Homo sapiens: one gene and its partners. The protein of the gene in region 3 interacts with the protein of the main gene of each other region in a pairwise test. Each region holds a gene or a part of one and is shown on either strand. Other genes may lie near its edges.

Region 1 (7,035 bases), on a different chromosome or scaffold from region 3:
GGCGGCTGGCCGGGTGGGGGGGCTGACCCCCCCCACCTCCCTCCCGGACGGGGCGGCTGGCCGGGCAGAGGGTCTCCTCACTTCCCAGTGGGGCAGCCGGGCAGAGGCGCCCCTCATCTCCCAGACAGGGCGGCTGGCCGGGCGGGGGGCTGGCCCCCCACCTCCCTCCTGGACGGGGCGTCTGGCCAGGCGGAGGGCTGACCCCCCCACCTCCCTCCCGGACGGGGCGGCTGGCCGGGCGGGGGGCTGACCCCCCCACCTCCCTCCCGGGCGGGGCGGCTGGCCGGGCAGAGGGGCTCCTCACTTCCCAGTAGGGGCGGCTGGGCAGAGGCGCCCCTCACCTCCCGGACGGGGCGGCTGGCCGGGCGGGGGGCTGGCCCCCCACCTCCCTCCTGGACGGGGTGGCTGCCAGGCGGAGACGCTCCTCACTTCCCAGACGGGGTGGCTGCCGGGCGGAGGGGCTCCTCACTTCTCAGACGGGGCGGCTGCCTGGCGGAGGGGCTCCTCACTTCTCAGACGGGGCGGTTGCCAGGCGGAGGGTCTCCTCACTTCTCAGACGGGGCGGCTGGGCAGAGACGCTCCTCACCTCCCAGACGGGGTCGCGGCCGGGCAGAGGCGCTCCTCACATCCCAGATGGGGCGGCGGGGCAGAGGCGCTCCCCACATCTCAGACGATGGGCGGCCGGGCAGAGACGCTCCTCACTTCCTAGATGGGATGGCGGCCGGGCAGAGACGCTCCTCACTTTCCAGACTGGGCAGCCAGGCAGAGGGGCTCCTCACGTCCCAGATGATGGGCGGCCAGGCAGAGATGCTCCTCACTTCCCAGACAGGGTGGCGGCCGGGCAGAGGCTGCACTCTCGGCACTTTGGGAGGCCAAGGCAGGTGGCTGGGAGGTGGAGGTTGTAGCAAGCCAAGATCACGCCACTGCACTCCAGCCTGGGCACCATTGAGCACTGAGTGAACCAGACTCCGTCTGCAATCCCGGCACCTCGGGAGGCCGAGGCTGGCGGATCACTCGTGGTTAGGAGCTGGAGACCAGCCTGGCCAACACAGCGAAACCCCGTCTCCACCAAAAAAATACGAAAACCAGTCAGGCGTGGCGGCGCGTGCCTGCAATTGCAGGCACTCGGCAGGCTGAGGCGGGAGAATCAGGCAGGGAGGTTGCAGTGAGCCGAGATGGCAGCAGTACCGTCCAGCTTCGGCTCGGCATCAGAGGGAGACCGTGGAAAGAGAGGGAGAGGGAGACCGTGGGGAGAGGGAGAGGGGGAGGGGGAGAGGGAGAGGGACTACCTTCCTCTCTTGACCAGGTACCACCTACTTTTTTTTTTTAAAGATGGAATCTTACTCCGTCACCCAGGGTAGAGTGCAGTGGAGCGATCTCGGCTCACTGCAACCTCTACTTCCCAGGCTCAAGTGGTTTTCCTGCCTCAGCCTCCCAAGTAGCTGGAATTACAGGTGTGTGCCACTATGCCCAGCTAATATTTGTATTTTTAGTAGAGACGGGGTTCCGCCATGTTGGCCAGGCTGGTCTTGAACTCCTGACTTCAAGTGATCTGCCCACCTTGGCCTCCTACAGTGCTGGGATTACAGGTGTGAGCCACTGCGCCTGGCCCCAGATACTTTATTATTGATACAGAATTCCTGTCTGATATAGTTTGTATGCAGCTGATACAGTTTGTATGGTTTTTGGGTATTTGTTTTGATCCAGGATCCAATCCAGGATCCTGTGTTACATTGACTTGTCATGTTATTTTAGTCTTCCTCAACCTTGAATGGCACTCTCCTTTCTTTTTTTTTTTTTTTCATGAAATTGATATATTTTTAAAAGACCCAGCTGGTGGTTGTGTAGATTGTCACTTGATGTTCAGTTGACATTCCCAATATTAAATTCAGACTCTCGTCTTTGGCAGGGCATTGTCTAAGTGACATCATGTTCTTCTTGGTGTGTCGTGTCAGGAAGCATGTGAGGCTGGTGGTGATCAGGTTTTTGTCATGTGGTTAAAGTGCTCTCTGCCAGGATCCTCCGCTTTTTCCCCTCTGTAATTGATAAGCCATTCTAGAGATGGTACTTTGAATGTTCTTTTAATCTTATGTTCATGGTGTATTACTCATTTTGATATAGTAAGATGTTTCAAATCTTTTTCTTTATGTTTTGTGCCTTTTGTGAGTTGAGAAATTCTTTGGCTTGGCGCAGTGGCTCGCGCCTATAATCCCAGCACCTTGGGAAGCTGAGGCGGGTAGATCACTTGAGGTCAGGAGTTCAACACCAGCCTGGCCGACATGGTGAAACCCCATCTCTACTAAAAATATAAAAATTAGCTGGGTATGGTGGTGGGCACATGTAATCCAAGCTACTCAGGCAGCTGAGGCAGGAGAATCACTTAAACCCAGGAGGCGGAGGTTGCAGTGAGCTGAGATCATGCCACTACACTCCAGCCTGGGTGACAGAGTGAGGCACTGTCTCCAAAAAAAAAAAAAAAAAAAAAAAAGGAAGAAAAAAGAAATTTTTTTTGGCTTGATGTAGTGGTGGCTCACGCCTTAATCCCAGCACTTTGGGAATCTGAGGCTGGAGGATCACTTGAGCTCAGGAGTTTGAAACCAGCCTGGGCAACACAGTGAGACCCAATCTCTACAAAACATTTAAAAAAAAAAAATGGCCAGGCGCGGTGGCTCACGCCTGTAATTCCAGCACTTTGGGAGGCCGAGGCGGGCGGGTCACGAGGTCAGGAGATCGAGACCATCTTGGCTAACATGGTGAAACCCCGTCTGTACTAAAAATACAAAAAATTAGCCAGGCATGGTGGCAGGCACCTGAAGTCCCAGCTACTCGGGAGGCTGAGGCAGGAGAATGGCGTGAACCCGGGAGGCAGAGCTTGCAGTGAGCAGAGATCGCACCACTGCACTCCAGCCTGGGTGACAGATCAAAACTCTGTATCAAAAAAAAAAAAAAAAAGAAAAAAAATTATCCAGGTGTGATGGCATACTCCTATGGTCATGGCTCCTGAGCCCAGGCATTCAAGATTACAGTGAGCCATGATCATACTACTGCATTCAAGCCTGAGCATCAAAGCAAGACTCTGTCTCTTTAAAAAAAAAAAAAAAAAAAAAAATTCTTGGCTGGGCGCCATGGCTCATGCCTGTAATCCTAGCATTTTGGGAGGTCGAGGCAGGCAGATCACCTGAGGTCAGGAGTTCAAGATCAGCCTGGCCGACTTGGTGAAACCCCATCTCTATTAAAAATATAAACAATTAGCCGAGTGTGGTGACGCGTGCCTGTAATCCCAACTACTCGGGAGGCTGAGGCACGAGAGTCACTTGAACCCAGGAAGCGGAGGTTGCAGTGAGCCGAGATCGCGCCACTGCACTCCAGCCCAGCTACAGAGCGAGACTCCGTCTCAAAAAAAAAATATATATATATATATAGATAGATAGATAGATAGATAGATAGATATAGATGTAAAATTAGCTGCGTGTGGTGGCAGGTACCTGTAGTCCTGGCTACTCAGGAGGCTGAGGCAAGAGAATTGCTTGAACCCAGGAGGCGGAGGTTGCAGTGAGTTGAGATCACGCCACTGCACTCCAGCCTGGGCAACAGAGCAAGACTCCATCTGAAAAATAAAAAAATAAAAAATAACAACAACAAAAAAACCCACAATTTTTTTCTACTCTGATAACTCAAAGATATTCTTGTAGTTCTATATTTATTTATTTATTTATTTTTTGAGACTGAGTCTCGCTGTTGTTGCCCGGGCTGGAGTGAAATGGTGCAATCTCGGCTCACTGCAACCTCTGCCTCCCGGGTTCCAGCAATTCTTCTCCCTCAGCCTCCCGAGTAGCTGAGATTACGGGCGCCTGCCACCACGCCTGGCTAATTTTTGTATTTCTAGTAGAGACAGGGTTTCACTATGTTGGCCAGGCTGGTCTCGAACTCCTGACCTCGGGTGATCCACTTGCCTCGGCCTCCCAAAGTCCTGGGATTATAAGTGTGAGCCACTGCGCCCAGCCTAGTTCTATTATTTCTAATCATTCAAAAAAATTTTTTCTCACATACTATTTAGGTCTTATAAGCCTGTGTGTGAGCGTGAGTGAATTTGGAATTGTAATTATTTTTCCATCTGAAAAGACAGCACGAGATATACTTACTTTTGCTAATGTGTGAGGCCACCTTTATCACCTTTTAAATTATTAAATGCCTCCAAGTCTGTTTGGGGCTCTGTCCTTCCTGTACCTTCACTGGGTTGCTTGCTTACTGGAACTTTAAGGAGGAGCCTTGACTTTGGCAAAACAACTACTCCTAGCTCTTTTTCCTCTCTTCTTTTTGTTTTTTAAGGAGTTGTCATGGATATTTCAGGAAGCTGTCTTCTTCAGTGTGAATTTTGTCACGCATCAGTAAAATTATTCCAGAGATTTGCTTGGAAGGCATTGCTTTTACAGGTCTAGTGAGAGTTGTCCTGGTTTCAGTACCCAGCCCTTTCATCTGTGTACCTGGTCTAGCTCCTCTCTTACTCAAATGCCCTCTCAGGTCTTGAGTAAACTTTTTCAAGTTTTCACCACAAAGATACTATATAATTTTTGTTAATTTTTGTTTTCTTTTTTTTGAGATAGGGTCTTGCTGTCTCACCCAGGCTGGAGTGCAGTGGCACGATCACAGCTCACTGCAGCCTTGAGCTCCTGGGCTACCAAGTAGCTGGGACTTCAGGTATGCACCATCACGCCTGGCTAAAGGCATTTCACTACATTGTCTAAGCTGGCCTTGAACTCCTAGGCTCAAGTGATCCTCCTGCCTCAACCTCCCAAAGTGCTGGTATTACAGGTGTTATCCAGTGCACCCGGCTGTGGCTGGGCTTTCACTGTGATTAGGTAATGGGGTTGGGGTTGGGGCTTGCATAGTTTGAACTTCCTGCTGGCACCAAGGAGGAAACTCCCAGACTTTCTTGTTGGCTTGCCCAGATGAGAGGGAGAAGGAGAAAGGGGTTGGGGCTTGAAAGCTGTCAGCAACCATCCAAAATGGAGTCAGACTCTTTATCACACTTGTAATCACATGGCTGACTTTGTCAGGATGGGATTAAAGTTGGTAAATGATTTATTTTTGTTAATGAGTTGTGAACAAGTAAAGTAAACATTATTATGGGTGTCCCACAGAGATGGCTGGAGCCGTGTGGATGGGCATAAATGGCTAATGTCCAGCAACCATCGATGTCAAGTATCCACACACCTGGCCTGAATGGATCCCTCTGCCTTTCAGAGGTGAGTACCAGGGAATGGAAGTCTACATGAGCTCAGCACATCCCTGCAAGGACTGTTATTTCCTTTATAAAGTCCTAAAATACCAGAAATGTGGCAGATGGGGTCTAGACTAGTGGTTCTGACCCTTACAGACTCGACACATACTTACTCTTTTAAACAGCTTTATTGAGATATAATTCACATAGCATACAATTTACCCTTTTAAGTGTACAATTCATTGTTTTTTATTATATTAACTAGCTTGTATATCCATTGCCACAGTCAATCTTCGAATGTTTTCATCACCCCTGAAAAAGAAAACCCATACCATTAGCAGTCACTCCCCCATCTTTCCCAGCCCTAGGTAATCTCTAATCTACTTTCTGTCTTATAGATTTGCCTGTTATGGACATTTCATATAAATAGCCTGCAGTATGTGGTCTTTTGTATGTGGCTTGTTAGACTTAGGAAAATGTTTCATGTTATAGCATGGGTCTTTTTTTATTTTATTTTATTTTTGAGATGTAGTCTTGCTCTGTCACCCGAGCTGGAGTACAGTGGCACGATCAGGGCTCACTGCAAACTGCTTCCCAGGTTCAAGCAATTCTCCTGCCTCAGCCTCCCTAGTAGCTGGGATTACAGGCGAGGGCCACCATACCCGGCTAATTTGTTTTTTTTTTTTTTGAGATGGAGGTTCGCTCTTGTTGCCCAGGCTGGAGTGCAATGGCATGATCTCGGCTCACTGCAACCTCCGCCTCTTGGGTTCAAGCGATTCTCCTGCCTCAGTCTTCCGAGTAGCTGGGACTACAGGTGCATGCCACCATGCCTGGCTAATTTTTTGTATTTTTAGTAGAGATGGGGTTTCACCGTGTTACCCAGGCTGGTCTTGAATTCCTGAGCTCAAATGATCCACCTGCCTCAGCCACCCAAAGTGCTGGGATTACAGGCATGAACCACTGCACCTGGCCAAGAGCATTAGGCCAGGCCGGGCACAGTGGCTTATGCCTGTAATCGCAGCACTTTGGGAGGCCAAGGCAGGCTGATCACCTTAGGTCAGGAGTTCAAGACTAGCCTCACCAACATGGAGAAACCCCGTCTCTACTGAAAATACAAAAATTAGGCATGGTGGCACATGCCTGTAATCCCAGGTACTCGGGAGACTGAGTCAGGAGAATCACTTGAACCCGGGAGGAGGAGGTTGCAGTGAGCTGAGATCGCTCCACTGCACTTCAGTCTGGGCAACACAGCGAGACTCTGTCTCAGAAAAAAAAAAAGAGTGTTAAGCCAGGCGTGGTGGCTCACAACTGTAATCCCAGCACTTTGGAAGGCTGAGGTGGGAGGATTGCTTGAGCCCAGGAGTTCAAGACCAGCCTGGCCCATATAGTGAGACCTCATCTCTACCAAAAAAAAAAGAAAAATTTAGGCTGGGTGTGGTGGCTCACGTCTGTAATCCCAGCACTTTGCGAGGCTGAGACATGCAGATCCCTTGAGGTTAGGAGTTTAGGACCAGCCTGGCCAACATGGTGAAACCCTGTCTACTAAAAATAGAAAAATTAGCCAGGCATGGGGGCATGTGCCACTTAAGAGGCCAAGGCAAGAGAATCGCTTGAGCACAGGAGGTGGAGGTTGCAGTGAGCTGAGATCATGCCACTGTACTCCAGCCTGAGACAGAGTGAGATTCTAACTCAAAAAAAAAAAAAAAATTATGTGTGATGGTGTGCAACTGTGGTCCCAGCTACTCAGGAAGCTGAGGTGGGAGGATCACTTGAGCCCAGGAGATTGAGGCTGTGTTGAGCCTTGATTGCACCTT
Region 2 (7,629 bases), on a different chromosome or scaffold from region 3:
GAGCTGGTACTGATAACGCTTTGTACTGTGGCATGCCTGGGCATCTAACAAAGGCAAAAAGGAGAAAAAAGGAGAAAAAGGGGGGGTACTATGAATTAGAGAATAAAAGATTGATGAGATTATTTGAAGAGAAACCTCATCATATCCTCATATCCCACAGTGTGACTCTCCAAAAGTCAATATAATATACAATAATAACTGTTCTAGGTAAAAAGACACTGAAAACATTAACAATTGCAATGTAAAAATCTTGAATGGATCTTAAACCCAAAAACATCCAAGAGCATACGTTGAATCAATGCGGAGAATTTTAGTTATTATAAAAAGCAGACATTAGATGACATTATTATTTTTTATTTAAGTGAAATACTAGTATTGTGGTTTCAGAATGACAGTGCTATTTTTTTAGGCGATGCATTACCAAGTATTTAAAGGTCAAGTATCACGTGTGCAATTATGCTCAATTTACACTCAAATTGTTCACCATAAAATGTATTTACCTGAGGTGAAAGAAAACAAGCACAATGCTCAAAAAGTAAGTGTTCAGGCACAGTGGCTCACACCTGTAATCCCAGCATTTTGGGAGGCCGAAGCAGGTGAACTGCCTGAGCTCAGGATTTCGAGACCAGCCTGGCCAACATGGTGAAACCTTGTCTCTACTAAAATACAAAAAAAAATTAGCTGGGCATGGCGGCATGTGCCTGTGTCCCAGCTACTAGGTGTCAGGCCTCTGAGCCGAAGCCAAGCCATCAGACTCCCTGTGACCTGCACGTATACATCCAGATGGCCTGAAGCAACTGAAGAACAACAAGAAGAAGCGAAAATAGCTAGTTCCTGCCTTAACTGATGACATTCCACCATTGTGATTTGTTCCTGCCCCAACCTAACTGATCAATTGACCTTGTGACATTCCTTCTCCTGGACAATGAATCTCAGGAGCTCCCCACTGAGCACCTTGTGATCCCCGCCCCTGCCCGCAAGAGAACAACCTCCTTTAACTGTAATTTTCCACTATCTACCCAAATCCTATAAAACTGCCCGACCCCTATCTCCCTTTGCTGACTCCTTTTCTGAACTCAGTCTGCCTGCACCCAGGTGATTAAAAGCTTTATTGCTCATACAAAGCCTGTTTGGTGGTCTCTTCACATGGACGCACCTAATGCTAGGGAGGCAGGAGAATTACTTGAACCTGGGAGGCAGAGGTTGCAGTGAGCCGAGATCGCACCTCTGCACCCCGACCCGGGTAGCAGAGCGAGACTCTGTCTCAAAAAAAAAAAAAAAAAAACTACTAGACTGGGTGTGTTAGATGTTCAAGTTTTCCCTAGGATCAAATTTTTCAGAAAAAAATGTCAAAACTACACTTAGTCTAAACATGCTGTTAATAAATTCAATAGATACTACTTTATTACACTAATACTAGAATAATATTCTGATTATAAAGCCTCCATCCTGGCCAGGAGCGGAGGCTCACGCCTGTAATCCCAGCTCTTTGGGAGGCCGTCAGGCGGATTACAAGGTCAGGAGTTCGAGACCAGCCTGGCGAGCATGGTGAAACCCTGTCTCCACTAAAAATACAAAAAAAAAAAATTAGCTGGGCATGGTCCCCATGCCTGTTGTCCCTGCTACTCGGAGGCTGAGGCAGGAGAATCACTTGAACCCAGGAGGTGGAGGTTGCAGTGAGCTGAGATCGCGCCACTGCACTCCAGCCTGGGCGACAGAGCAAGACTCCGTCTGAAAAAAACAAACAAAAGCCTCCATCCTTTCTTCCTGTGGGCCCGTTTTGAAGCTCTGTGGGGGGGTACAGACCTAGGAACTTCAGATAAAGACAACAGCTGTGTATTATTGCCTTTCTTTCTTTTTTGAGACGGAGTTTCGCTCTCATCGCCCAGGCTGGAGTGCAGTGGCAGATCTCGGCTCACTGCAACCTCGGCCTCTCAGGTTCAAGCAATCCTCCTGCCTCAGCCTCCCAAGTAGCTAGGATTACAGGGGACTGCCACCAAGCCTGGCTTTTTTTTTTTTTTTTTTTTTTTTGTGTGTGTGAGACGGAGTCTCCCTCTTTTGCCCAGGCTGGAGTGCAGTGGCGCGATCTCGGCTCACTGCAAGCTCCGCCTCCCGGGTTCACGCCATTCTCCTGCCTCAGCCTCCCGAGTAGCTGGGACTACAGGCGCCCGCCATCGCGCCTGGCTAATTTTTTGTATTTTTAGTAGAGACAGGGTTTCACCATGTTGGCCAGGCTGGTCTCGAACTCCTGACCTCAGGTGATCTGCCCGCCTCGACCTCCCAAATGGCTGGGACTACAGGCGTGAGCCAGCGCGCCCAGCCTGCCTTTCTTTTGTAGAAAGGCTTGTAGCTGGTAACAACAAAAAACATTAAGTCCAAGAAAATAAAATAAGAAACTAAAGGCTCACAGTCTACACGTGTTCATATTTACATGCAGATATAGGCACACCCTAAACGACTATTTTTTTTCCATCAGAAAGTAATGTGTCAAAAATAAGAATAGGACATCAATGCCAGATTCTCAGACGAGACATTTTTAAGCAAAGAAATGGAAGTCAGAGCCCTCTTGAAACCAATTTTCTGCAGGTGTTCACCAGGAACATGCCGGAAACGCCAGGTTCCTGAGGCGCGGAAATGCGGGGCCGGAGCCAACCTGACTGGAACGGCAGAAATCCTTTTACTTTCAGAAAGAAAGAAACTCACAAAGGTTGCTTTCCAAGCTTTTGAAGAAGGGAGCACAGCGGATGAAACCACTCCAGAAAACGCGCGGAGTCGGGACAAACACACTTCCCGACCTGGCTCCTGACTGGGACCCACTGAGCCTGCGGCCTCTAGCCACTGGCCGCGCAAGGAGGACCGACAGCCCCTGGAGAAGAGAGTGAAACGAGGCGGATCGGAGAGGCTCCTGGGCGACAGCACCCAATCGTTCCTTTGCCGCCCCCCGCTATCTCCGGGATCCCCAAGCAGGCGGAACTCACCACAGCCAGGGTGGACTCCACCACGATAAAGGCGAAATGGCACTGACCATGCGGAGCCAGCGCCGGAAAAGATGGCGATTGTGCGCTGACGTCACTTCCGCTCCGAGCCTCGGGCCGGGCGGGGCTCCTGGGTTCGAGTTTCAGCCACATAGGACCCAGTCAAACACAGAAATTGTAGTTTCTTCCCGGGTGGGCGCGGACAGGCCCTTACTTGGGGGCGGTTTAGAGGTGGGACCCGGCTAGCCGGCGGTTCAGGTGGCCGGACCTGCTGGAAGGGCGGGCGTGGGGGATGGGACGCACCCCAGGGGATGCTCCTGCAGAGCTTTTCCCAGGTGGGCACAGTGGCTAAGGCCTGTAAGTCCAACACTTTGGGAGGCTAAGGCAGGTGGATAGCTTGAGTCCAAGAGTTCAAGACCAGCGTGGGCAAAATAGCAACATCCTTTATTAAAATATATATGTGTGTATACATATATATAAAGCTTGTTTGTATACATCTCATGTTCCTAGAGCCTTTCCATGATTCTTCCATATGGATAAAGCTGCCAGTGAATGGCATGGTCTATCTCTTCTATTCAGTCAGGCTTTCTGTAGGCCTTTATTTCTTCATTCTTTATTTTTTAGAACCTGCTGGTTCCATTGCGTTTTCTTTTTTCGTTTTTCTTTTTCATTTTTTATTTTTTTTTGAGACAGATCTCACTCTGTTGCCCAGGCTGGAGTGCAGTGGCATGACCTCGGCTCACTGTAACCTCTGCCCCCCGGGTTCAAGTGATTCTCCTGCCTCAACCTCCCGAGTAGCTGGGATTACAGATGTCTGCCTCCACGCCCAGCTAATTTTTGTACTTTTAGTAGAGAAGAGTTTCACCATGATGGCCAGACTGATCTCGAACTCCTGACCTCCAATGATCTGTCTCCCTCAGCTTCCCAAAGTGCTGGAATTATAGACATGAGCCACCGCACCCGGCCACGTTTTCAATATAATAATATTTTCTGTAAATCTTGATTTTTTTTTGTCTTCATCAAGTATGTATTTCTGGCTGGGTATGGTGGCTTATGCCTATAATCCCAGCAATTTGGGAGGCCAAGGGATCGTTTGAGGCCAGGAGTTTGAGACCAGCCTGGGCAATACAGCAAGACCCCGTCTCTGTTTAAAAAAAATTTTAAATATGTTTTTGTTTTTGTTTTGAGATGGAGTCTAGCTCTGTTGCCCAGGCTGGAGTGCAGTGGCACGATCTTGCTCACTGCAACCTCTGCCTCCCGGGTTCAAGCGATTCTTCTCTCTCAGCCTCCTGAGTAGCAGAGATTACAGGCAGGCGCCGCCATGCCCGGCTAATTTTTGTATTTTTAGTAAAGACAGGGTTTCACCATATTGGCCCAGTTGGTCTCGAACTCCTGACCTCATGATCCGCCTGCCTCACCTTTCCAAAGTGCTGGGATTACAGATGTGAGCCACCACGCCTGGCCAAAAACATGTATTTCTATTGTTATTTTTCTGATCTTCCCACATGGGCCAGGACCACATTTCCTACATTGTAAAATAGCACTGACACCAGACATTCTCCCCAGGTTTATTCAGAAATGTAACATAATCCCAGTAAAAATATTAAAAGTTTTTTCTGGAGTTAGGTACGTTGATACTAAAGTTTATGTGGAAGAATAAATATCTGATAATAACCAAGAAAACAAAAACAAAAGCAATGATGAGCAGCAGATGTTAAAACATACTATTAACAGTTTTCACACAAGGCAAATAATTAAATTATATTAAAATAAAAATAAATAAGACATACTATAAAGCCTCTATAATTAAAACTATGTGGTACTAGCACATGAAGCAGAAACAGACTAATAAAATATCTAAAAACAGACCCAAGAACATGTAGGAATTTGGTTCATAAATGTGGTATTTTGCCAGGCGCGGTGGCTCATACCTGTAATCCTAGCAATTTGGGAGGCTGAGGCGGGAGGATCACCTGAAGTCAGGAGTTCGAAACCAGCCTGTCCAACATGGTGAAACCCTGTCTCTAATAAAAATACAAAAATAAAATTAGCCAAGCATGGTGGTGGGCTTTCTGTAATCCCAGCTATTCGGGAGGCTGAGGCAGGAGAATCGCTGAAACCCAGAAGGCAGAGGTTGCAGTGAGCCGAGATCGCGCCACTGGACTCCAGCCTGGGCAACAAGAGTGAAAATCCATCTCAAAAAAAAAAAAAAAAGGTATTTCAGATCAATGAGGCAAAAAAAGCCATTTGTAATGGAAAGTCTAAGACAGCTGGGTAGCCATCAGAGAAAAGATGAAATTAAATCCATACTTCACAGCATATACAAGAATAAACTCTAAATGGACTAGGGATCTAAATGTGAAAAATAAAACCATATACGCATTCAGGGTGTAAGTGATTTCTTGGCTGAGTAAGGAAAAAGACGTGACCACAAGGCGGCAGTAGCACACAAGCTTCATTTGGGATGTGCTTTGACAGGTAAGGAGTGGCGGGAGGTAGCAAACAGCAAGAGAATATCCACAGGCTTCTACCTGTGGGTCGCTGCTCAGAAAGGGTGGAAAGGAAGAAAGACTCCCAGAGGAGAAGGGGAATCAAAGAGGGGGCTTATATGACTAAGTGACGATGCTCAGCAGCCTGGCAGCATATCTTCCAGTTAAAAAGTTCTGAAGGACAAGTCTGGCCAACATGGTGAAACTCCGCCTCTACTAAAAATACAAAAATTAGCCGGGCATGGTGGCGGGCGCCTGTAATCCCAGCTACTCGGGAGGATGAGGCAGGAGAATTGCTTATACCCGGGAAGCGGCGGTTGTATTGAGCCAAGATCGCGCCATTGCACTCCAGCCTGGGCGATAGAGTGAGACTCAGTCTCAAAAAAATAAAAATAAAATATGTAATTATCTGTTCATTCTGAGTACAGGGAAACACTGATAGGACTATCCTGAAAATAATAAGATTCAGAATCTATCGGGGATAGATGGGAAGGGCTTGAACAGAATGGTGGGATAAGAACAAAATGGAGAGGATAGGGATAGGGAAACCTCTCTGAGCATATCATTCTGTTTAGTTCTGATGTTTAAAATCACATTCTACTTTTTTTTTTTCTTTTTGACAGGGTTTCACTCTGTCACACAGGCTGGAGTGTAGTAGCGTTATCATTGCTCAGTGCAGCCTTTACTTTGTGAGCTCAAGTAATCCTCCTGCCCAAGTACCAGGGAATACATATGTACACCACCACATCCAGCTAATTTTTAAAAATATTTTGGGTAGAGAAGAGATCTCTCTATGTTGCCCAGGCTGCTCTTGAACTTCCAGTCTGTCACATATAAAGTTTTGGTGCCACAAAAGAAATAACACTTGAATATAAAATTTTCTTTTTAATTCTCAGCAAGGCAAGATACTTCTATAGAAGGGTGCACTCTCACAGATGGAGCAATGGTGGGCACACACCTGGACAAGGGAGGGAAAGGGGTTCTTATTCCTGACACACGTGGTCCCTACTGCTCTGTCGTTCCCCTACTGGCTAGGGTTGGACCTCACAGGCTAAACTAATTCCGATTGACTAATTTAAAGAGAGTGATGGAGTGAGCGGTTTGGGAAAAGGGTGCTTTATGAGGAAGTTAAGTTTAAAAGTAGAAGGCAAAGAATTGAGCATACTGACATATTAATTCTTTGAAGAGAAATTTATAATTCATTTTCAACAACTTCCTCCTCTTGCATTTTTTTTATGGCTTTCTCTTCAAACTTATTTAACATGTCTTGACTTAGTTGTTCTGCTTGATTTTCCAAAAGAAGGAGCTTCTCTGGATAAGGTGGAGGATAGTTAAAGGAGGTTTTAGTAAGTGCCATTTCTATGAGCCTCTGCACCAACCTACAGATGCATGGTATGACACGGCACCTGACAAGGATAAGTACACCCATTACGGCTACAAGGGAGGTGAGAATTGAGGCTATTATTCCTTTCCATTTACCGAACCACTTTTCTAGCCATTCTGTAAATGGGTAATTTACCCCTGAATTGCTGGCCAACTCATTGGATAGAGGAGTCAGGCCTTGCAATGCCTTTCTTATACTTCCATTAGGGGCCGTGTTGTTTGGGATGAAGTTGCAACAATGAGTTTTAATAATGATGCAAACTCCTCCTCTTTCTGCTAATACCATGTCTAAAGCTATCCTATTTTCCCAAGCCATCAGGTTAGTAGCCCCCAATTGCTCAGCTATTCCTTTAACAGCATCTCTAGTGTAGTTAATAAATCGCTGTTGGTTGTAATAGATGTAGTTTACCCAATCTACATTTTTTTTTTTTTGAGATGGAGTCTCACTCTGTCACCCAGGCTGGAATGCAGTGGTGCGATCTTGGCTCACTGCAAGCTCCGCCTCCTGGGTTCATGCCATTCTCCTACCTCAGCCTCCTGAGTAGTTGGGACTACAGGCACCTGCCACCATGCCCGGTGAATTTTTTGTATTTTTAGTAGAGACAGGGTTTCACCGCGTTACCCAGGATGGTCTCAATCTCCTGACCTTGTGATCCGCCCGCCTCGGCCTCCCAAAGTGCTGGGATTACAGGCATGAGCCATCGCGCCCGGCCCACCCAATCTACATTTTTATTAACTGTCGCCTACCAAAATATTGACTTAAATCCTGCAGCTATTGGATT
Region 3 (3,063 bases):
TGTGTTCATTGAGGGCCGTGAGGGTGCTGCTTCTCCCTTCCTGCTCAGGTTCAGTCTCTGACTGGAGATCGGGGAACGCTGTCCCTGTGCAGCTGACACTCTCTTTATCTCTTTCTCCCTCTCCCTCTTTTTGTTTCTCTTATTCCCAGGACATCAAGGAGACTTTCAATAGGTGTGTTCCCAGTCTTTGCCCTTCGTGACCCAGTGGCATCTGGTTCCCTGTCCCTGCTTCTCTTCGGTATCCCTCTCCTCTCCTTCCTTCCCCAGGACCTGAGTTTCCATCTCCTGGACCCTCCTCTCCTTCCCCTCAGCTTTTGCTTTTCCCTCTGGGAATATCGTGGTCCCACCCCCTGCCCGGTCCCCTTCCTCCAGGTGTGAAGAGGTACAGCTGCAGCCCCCAGAGGTCTGGTCCCCTGACCCGTGCCAACCCCATAGCCATGACTTCCTGACAGATGCCATCGTGAGGAAAATGAGCCGGATGTTCTGTCAGGCTGCGAGAGGTAGGGAGGTCACCTCCACGACCTTCCTTTGCCTTTCCCTTCACAGACCTGAGACTGGGTCCTGAGGGAAGTTGGGCCCCAGGGAAACTGTGGGGCTTGAGATGGAGCAGGATCCAGGCAGCCACTCTGAGGTTGAGGTTTCAAGCCATGAGCAGGTAGACCTAGTGCAGGCAGGCCTGGAGGGTGGGGTGGGGTGGAGTGGCAGGAAGAGCCAGGCTGGGGGAAGACCTGTCAGGTATCCTAGGAACAAGAGTGAGGAGCAAGATGAGCCTGCAGGAATCTGAGGCTGGCCTCTGGGATGGTGTGGGGAGCTGGATTCAGGGAGAAAGGGGGCCCAATCTGTGGAGTTGGCTGCTGACAGGGGAACAGCCGTTCCAGCCCTGGCGTATTTGTCCTCCCTCCCTCCCAAGTGGACCTGACGCTGGACCCTGACACGGCTCACCCGGCCCTGATGCTGTCCCCTGACCGCCGGGGGGTCCGCCTGGCAGAGCGGCGGCAGGAGGTTGCTGACCATCCCAAGCGCTTCTCGGCCGACTGCTGCGTACTGGGGGCCCAGGGCTTCCGCTCCGGCCGGCACTACTGGGAGGTAGAGGTGGGCGGGCGGCGGGGCTGGGCGGTGGGTGCTGCCCGTGAATCAACCCATCATAAGGAAAAGGTGGGCCCTGGGGGTTCCTCCGTGGGCAGCGGGGATGCCAGCTCCTCGCGCCATCACCATCGCCGCCGCCGGCTCCACCTGCCCCAGCAGCCCCTGCTCCAGCGGGAAGTGTGGTGCGTGGGCACCAACGGCAAACGCTATCAGGCCCAGAGCTCCACAGAACAGACGCTGCTGAGCCCCAGTGAGAAACCAAGGCGCTTTGGTGTGTACCTGGACTATGAAGCTGGGCGCCTGGGCTTCTACAACGCAGAGACTCTAGCCCACGTGCACACCTTCTCGGCTGCCTTCCTGGGCGAGCGTGTCTTTCCTTTCTTCCGGGTGCTCTCCAAGGGCACCCGCATCAAGCTCTGCCCTTGATTATCCTGCCACCCGCAGGGGCCCCTCTGTCAGCACTTGGGGGGTGGGTGGTGGAGGGTGGCCCGTAAGTTTGAGGGCTCAAAGGCTCTTCCCACTGCTTGTTACTGTGTTGCTTCCCACTCCCCCTTGACCCCAGGCCCCTGCTTCTCCCTCTAGGAGCCTAAAGAACCCTCCTGGCCTCCAGCTCAGCCTTCTCTCACCTACTATGTCTGTCCAACAGGTCTGCATGGGTCCCTGATAATGAGAACAGCTGCCTGGTCTTCTCTCCCAGTCTGCCTAGCCCAGCCCTGGGACTGGAATTTGAGTAGGGGATGAGGGGAAATTGTAATTTCATTCCTTAACTTCCTTTTCCCCACCCCTGCTCTTCAACCTCTTTATCAGTTCTGAGGCTGGAGGGTTTGGGCAAGGCAACATCCCCATTCCAATTCCATTTTCTGATGCAGATTTTAGCTGAGGGATTTGGAAGCCATTTGGGGAGGCAGGCTGGGCCAAAGGGTAGAGCTGGGTAATAAATGTCTATTCTCCTGGGGAGGAGGGATTCTAAACTTTCCTTCCGTCCTCAATTTCTACCTCCATAGACCGGCCAGAATTTAGCTTCACTTGAGAGAGATCTGGAATGGTCGCCATGATTGAAACCACGCACCATTACATCATCATTACATTAATTACATCAACATAAATTATTTCTTCCCCCTTCCCTTTTCCAGCACTCAACCAAGGAGCAAAGCTCATCCCACCCCACACCCCTCCCAGGTCTGCTCACTGCCAGGCTCCTCTCCCCTTTGTTCAGTGGAGCTGGCTTTTCTCCCAGCCCCTTTCCATGCCTTTCACTCCATTTGGCAAGCTCTGAGGGGGAGCCTGGGGACGGGTTTGGGTCCCCAGGAGGAGAGCCTTGGGTATAATCTATTTTTCTAGGAGCCTCTTGCCTTGTCACTTGCAGCTTTCGCCCTCTGCTTTGATGGCTGAGGTGAACTCATGTTCTTTGGGAAAAGGGAAGGCGTGCTGTGGAAATAAAATGTTTATTTGCTTCTCTTGTGAGGTCTGTTCCTTCAGGTGAGGGTGTAACTCAGGATTTCTTCCTTTGCCGCCCCTGCAGTGAGAAGCCACACAACTGAACTGGTTAGTTGCAGTTAAAGGCATGCTTTGCACCTGTTACCAGGCAGGCTCCTATTTCAACAGGGATGTGGACCCTGCTCCCCATTTTAATATCTTAACCTAACTTACTAACTGTTCAGTCTACTTAGAGATGTTTGCCACACGTAGTTGAAACTGAAGCCAGAAATGCCTCATCACCATTATAAATTGAGGGGAGTAGGAAGTGGAGGGTGCATGTGGGCCTTCAATATGCTGTAGTTGCTTAGCACAGAAAATTGCAAGGGTAGTGGGGTCTCAGCCGCATGTTGAACCATTCCATCCCTGTACTGAGGTTTCTATTGGAAACTGTAATTGTAGTTTAATGGCTCACTTCTGGCCTTTCACAAGGCATCTATCCTCATGAATAAACTGTGTTTGTGTGTAGGGGGATTGAGGGCCAGGTTATAGTAGCAGTTG

The links. The genes of interacting proteins can lie anywhere in the genome.
Region 1: the proteins of TRIM41 (region 3) and ZNF329 interact in binary tests that used the Homo sapiens proteins (3 or more experiments, as listed by UniProt).
Region 2: the proteins of TRIM41 (region 3) and ZNF121 interact in binary tests that used the Homo sapiens proteins (3 or more experiments, as listed by UniProt).

Annotation. Positions count from the first base shown.
Region 1 is NC_000019.10:58,140,768-58,147,802, reverse strand, and holds part of ZNF329 (zinc finger protein 329), read left to right. Parts: intron 1-4,604; 5' UTR 4,605-4,698; intron 4,699-5,141; 5' UTR 5,142-5,223; coding exon of another isoform or gene 5,224-5,246; intron 5,247-7,035. UniProt on the Homo sapiens protein: May be involved in transcriptional regulation.
Region 2 is NC_000019.10:9,581,483-9,589,111, forward strand, and holds the start of ZNF121 (zinc finger protein 121), read right to left. Parts: upstream 3,023-7,629; 5' UTR 2,979-3,022; intron 2,867-2,978; exon of another isoform or gene 2,704-2,866; intron 1-2,703. UniProt on the Homo sapiens protein: May be involved in transcriptional regulation.
Region 3 is NC_000005.10:181,233,264-181,236,326, forward strand, and holds the end of TRIM41 (E3 ubiquitin-protein ligase TRIM41), read left to right. Parts: intron 1-149; coding exon 150-172; intron 173-372; coding exon 373-500; intron 501-910; coding exon 911-1,512; 3' UTR 1,513-1,668; coding exon of another isoform or gene 1,669-1,827; 3' UTR 1,828-2,090; coding exon of another isoform or gene 2,091-2,141; 3' UTR 2,142-2,545; downstream 2,546-3,063.